2 separate regions of the Homo sapiens genome follow, and region 1 is linked to region 2. The links come from fine-mapping of genetic effects on gene expression. A gene starts in region 2. The other region holds a variant in brackets. All regions are shown on one strand. Distances are from middle to middle.

Evidence for each region. PIP is the estimated chance that this variant, and not a neighbour inherited with it, causes the effect.
Region 1: its variant is fine-mapped to the expression of TRPC6 in whole blood (INTERVAL, PIP 0.92).

The regions. Positions count from the first base shown.
Region 1 is chr11:101,551,960-101,554,988 of GRCh38, forward strand. The region is part of intron 1 of TRPC6 (transient receptor potential cation channel subfamily C member 6); the gene reads right to left. Among named protein-coding and RNA genes, the nearest start is that of TRPC6, 31 kb to the right of the region's middle. The variant C/G (reference allele first, on the strand shown) is at 1,592.
Region 2 is chr11:101,582,926-101,585,425 of GRCh38, forward strand. TRPC6 (transient receptor potential cation channel subfamily C member 6) reads right to left here and starts at 1,082. Exons shown (of 13, transcript NM_004621.6): 1 at 409-1,082. The coding sequence starts at 578.

The sequences.
Region 1 (3,029 bases), 31 kb before region 2:
TGGGGAACTGATACAAAAATAAGAATACACTAGCTCCTGTTATTGCTATGATTAAAGGTTGTCCAACTTTGGCCCAGGAGGTTTGTGTCTTTTATCGGCATCCATGAAACTATGGCGGGCCATCTTGTAAGTTTGCAAGTAAAAATCTCAGACCCTTCACAGTTCTTTACACCAATAAGATCATATACTTGATGCACCCTTTATAAGTTATTTTCAGAACTTAGAAACTTAGTTTTCTTTTGTTAAGTGAAGCCAGGGCCATTCACTGCACATTTTCCACTGGGCAGCAGGTCACCTCTAGCTGTAAGAAACAAGAAAGATGACGAAGAGGAGAAATCAACGTAACCCATGTTTGAAACACACAGTGGCCTATATTTGAAAACATAATAACAAAGCCACATGAGGCTGGCTTTTCTAATCATCCAAAATTACTTGGCTCTAAATATTTTCATCACCTTCTGTCTCAGCAGTTTATATGTCAAGAAACAAAATGGTCCAGAAAGTATTTGTACCAAATAATAAAGCTTTAGTCAATCCATTCTGACACAAGGCAAACTAAGGAGGTGAGTCAGAAAGTTCAAGTTTTGCTCTTCAGACATCTTTCTTCTGTTTAGGTTTGTTTATTTGTTGCCCAAATCAAAAAGTGAACACTGGTTTATGATCCAACAACAAATCCTACAAGAAGTTTAGTCTTAGCTATTAGATTATCCATTAAAAAAAATTCTCCATCTAATTAAGATGATAAATGTCTCAAACTCTGCATAGTTCCTCTATAATTCCTACATTATTATTTTTCAATTGGTACTAAATATACATCTTATAGCCGCTCAGGATCAGGTCTAATTCTGGGTTCTGGTTAGTGTTTGGAATAACATGAGTAAATGATATGGCATAAATATAAATGATAGTGACAAACACTGTCAAACTTTATCCAGTGTGGTTTTTCTGTTTCAAGTGGCAGAAATTAAGTGAAAATATCATAACCAATAAATGTTTATTCTTTTATCAGATAACGGCTGAGAAATATGTGGTATTTGGCTAATGTGAAAAGAGAAGCTTCCTTAAAGTCTGGGTTTGCAGAAATTCAGGAAGTAGAGTATTAATGGGAAGTAAGATAGGGTGAGGTAGAGTATTAATGGGAAGTAAGATAGGTGATGTAATCAAAGAATCAGTGCCAGTCCCCTCTTTCTTCATCTGATTCAAGATCGTGAACCTGAGCCAGCTCTGATAAATGTAATAATTCTAGACAGTGAAGTTTACCATTGAAACACTGAAGTTGACTGCAGAAACCAAATGCTGTTCTAAGCTAACTCTTTCCTGTAACCTATCCCATCTCTGCCTACTCTGATACCAGCCTTATTTTTTTTTAATTTTTCTTTTGTTTCCTCCTGACTAGGCTTTGTAACCCTCTCACTGAACCTTTATCACAGCTGGTATTCTATTTCAAACTGGATAAACAAAAGAATAATTGAGATGAAACCATAGGCTAAATGCAAATATCTCCCGGCCTATTAACTCCTATTGCGTTCCTCACCTATCGCATCAGCCCCTCTTGGATGCCAATGTTAGTTTAAAGCAAGTAATGTTAGTC[C/G]CGTGCCTTTGGACATTATACTCTAGATTGCTGATCAGTACTTTAGAATCCACCCAGGTTGTGTTTCTAATAGTTTCCAGCTTTCCTCCCTCTCAACCAGCTCACCTACTGAGAACTTAGCATACACTGGATCACATTCACTAAGAATTATAATATATTCTAGCACACATGTATGGATAAGCTCCTCTATTTTATTCACATCTCTTTTGGCTCCCATAGCTACTTTTAGAAGAGTAAGTGCACTCATACATCATTCTCTCCACAAAAAGATTCTTAAGATTTATCGTGTCCCAGATACCAAGCTCAGTAATAGGGTATATGTAAAGGAAAATGAGACAATTGAAAGAAAAAATTAAGTCCCTGCTCTATACTAGATGCCGTTGTAAGTGTTCATAGTTCTGTGGGGAAAATGTTTATGTGAACACATTTCACACATGCTTTAAATGCTATGCTAGAGGTATGTGCAATGCACATGGAAATACAGAAATAGACACACTGGACTCTGCATCAGTTGAAGCTGAATTCACTGGCCGGTGACTTTTAAAGAACACGTGGTCAGATGCAAAATGGTTCTATAAATAAAGAGGAAGGAGAAATCAGTGCTCCAGGCAGACAGACCAGTATATTCAGTGAAATGGATGTGTGAGACAGTATATTCTATACTGTGTCTCTTCAATAGGAAGAACTGAAAATGAAAATTGTTCCTTTTCACTTCTGCTTTTTATTAAGAGGCCAGTAGTAGAGAAGCTGGAACAACAAAAGAAAGTTTTAGATTTGCATATAAACTTTTGTTTACATTTATGTTATGCTTGGTATGTTAACTGGGCATCTAAGCTTATTTCAAAGTAGAGCAATAGTAAAAAAAAAAAATTAACCTGTTAAGAGAATAAACAGTGGCCTGATTATGTTGGAATCCTTAATGTTTCCCATGTTTGCATGAATGTATGTATAAAACATATATATAAATTGGGAATATGGTGGGTTTTCCTGGTTTCAGTGTGAGACACTGACCTCTACAGTATCCTTCAGTGCCCTGGCCAGTTTCAGGTGGTGGTTGCCCAGTGCCAGGCAATGGGAAGAATCAAGTTATAAGCCTCACTATATTTCTTTCCCTGCATCACCCAAAAAGTGAGGAAAAAATTTTAAAAAACAAAGATGAAAAATAACCAATCAACAAAATTCTTTATTAACTAAAAGTTAATGAAAGTTATTGTAAACTCCAGCCTAAGAAAGATAGCAGCTGATCTTCTTTCAAAGCTGAATAACACCCTTAATCAATCCCAGCCCTATTTCCTTGCCCTAGCTTGTCCTCCCACTGGGTGTAGGCACATCACCCGCTTGACTCCCTTCCCTCTCTGTCCTCTCTAAGTTTGTCTTGCTCTCTATGCCTGAGTCTTAAAACAGGCCACAAAGATGCCACTCCATGGGTTAAAGTTGT
Region 2 (2,500 bases):
GGCTAAGAGTCACCCGGGCGCACATCTGAATCAGCCCCCTGTTCAGATCCCGCCTGTTACGTAGCGATCCTGTCTCTTGTAGAGCGCAGGATGAAGGGGTCTGGAGAAATCGACCACCCATCTAATCACCTGCAATGGTGGTGTTACTATGCGGTCTCACTCTCGTGGGCAAACATATCCATGCGTACCTACGAGGAGCAAACCTAGACAACCCCGCCTCCCCCACTCCCCGCGCGCCCCTCCACTCACTCAGGTCCCAGCCCTGGCTCTCGCGGACCTCCCAGCACCGTCCTAGGAGGTACACACGCGGGTTCAGGACGCGCGCGGACGGACTCGGCCACTCCTGCGAGCGCACAACCTCCCTCCGCGCAGCCCGCGCCCGATCCGCCCCGCGTCGCCGGCACTCACAAGCAGGGGTAGTAGCCGTAGCAAGGCAGCGGGGCTTGCGGGCAGCCGTCTTCTCCCAGCTCCGAGTCCATGAGCAGATAGTCCTGGCTCTCGTTGCGCCGCGCAGCGGCTCCGGCAGCGCCCCGGGGAGAACTGCCCCTCCGGGGCCCGAACGCCGGGCTCTGGCTCATGGCGGGAACGCCCGACTGGCCTGGGCCCCGCTCCCGGGGGAGCCGAGTGGGCAGTTCCAGCGGGGACCCGGTGCGGAGGGTTCGCGTCAGCGGCCGAACTGGACCTGGGCAGACCGGTGCCCAGGGGACGACGGTGAAGCAGGGGGTGCAGACGCCCGCCGCAAGTGGCTCGCCCACTGGCCCGGGGAAAAGTCACCACTTAAGGGGGTGCAAAGAGGATCTTGACCTGAGCAGGTCAGGCCGAGGAGACCCCGCGAGGATGCGTCTGGGGCGCCCGGGCAGAGAGGGCACAGGCGGGGCCGCTGGTGGTAGCGAAGCGTAAGAGCGGAGAGCAAGGGAGACGGAGCTGAAGAGTTACTATGTCAACAGAGACTCTCCAGCCCTCAGCTCCCGCCTTCATCCCCCGCACTCTCCGTCAAGATCCCCACCTTTAAAGGGATCCGAGCGACGTTCTAGAAAGCAGCCAAAGCCTGTCCTGTAGCCACAACTTTCAGGAGGCGGTATGAGCCTGAACTAGGAGGAGCCAGGCACGCACTCTTTTTTTCCCCTCCACTATTTAGTTGGCTCATTTAGTAAGGATACCAACTGCGGACTTCGTAGGAAGCTTCCTTTAAGAACCACTCTCAAAGAGCCAAGGAAACCTGTTCCTTAAAAGGGACACGAGCCTCTTCTTTCTCCAGACTGCCTTCATTTTCTTTGGTCATTTTCTCTCTTACCCTCAACTCATAAAGTTATTATGACTCTGCTTTAAAAATGAACAACGTTCTATGTTCCAAACGCCAGATGTTCCCAGTTCCTGAGAAAACCAACAAAAATAGGCAAGCATTTTCCAATGATACCGATAAAGAGGCCAACAACCTGCTTACTTCAGAGAAAAAATTTTCCTTCCGTCACTGCGAATGCAAGAATGATTTCTCTGCCAGATGTTTCCCACGTTTCCAAGCTGTTTTATTTTTAAGACTTAGTTTTAAATTCTGATTAATATGCATACGTGTGAGAAGTAAAAACTTGTCAACAAGGATGAATCAGTATTTGTAGACCTTTAAGCAGTAGTAGCCAATTAAGAATCCATTCATTAAGTCAACAAATATTTAATGAATGCCAACTGCGTTTCAAATCATTTCAGAATTCGGAGGCAAAGAAGCAGATGAGGCACCTGTCTGCCCTCATAGAGCTTTCGTGGCAGAAAGGGGGACCAATTAAATAAGCAAATGAAAAAATATCAAGGACAAATGCTACAATGAAAATAAAACAGGTTGATGTGATGGCAGCTGGTGAATGACTACTTCAGATGAGATGGTTAAAAGAGGCCCCTCCAAGGAGGTGCTCGTTAAGTTGAGACATGCATGGCAAGCAGCCAGCCATGAAAAGATCAGAGGCCCATTGCAATTGGATGAAAGAAAGCCAGACTGAAATCTGTCTGCAAAGGTGCCTTTGCTTCCCATGAACAGGTGGACAACAAAATGAATGTTGGAAGTGTGGGAAAATGCAATTGATTTGATAGAAGGGAAAAGAGCTCACACATTTAGAAACTTCTGAGTTTGCCTTTAAATTTAGAACTGAAACTCAGAGAGAGCAGAAACCACTGTGTCCTGAGGATCCAGCTTCGTATTTGACACAGGTGTGTAGGGTGCATGCATGCATGCTTGGGTGGGTGAGTGGGTGGGTGGGTGGATGGATGGATGGATGGACGGATGGATGGATGGATGGATGGAAGGAATATAGAAAAAATAAGAAAATGCTCTTGGCCCTGGAAAGAACATTTTCCCTGGGGAAACAAACAACCTGCATCATTCTGAAGTCTGTTCTTTCTGATTTAACAGCCTTCCTTTTTGATCTTTCAACATGTGGAGCCATGATTTAAAATTCTTATAATTTTCTAGTTACTATACCTAGCAATAAGATATTCTTCCTAAAATTTG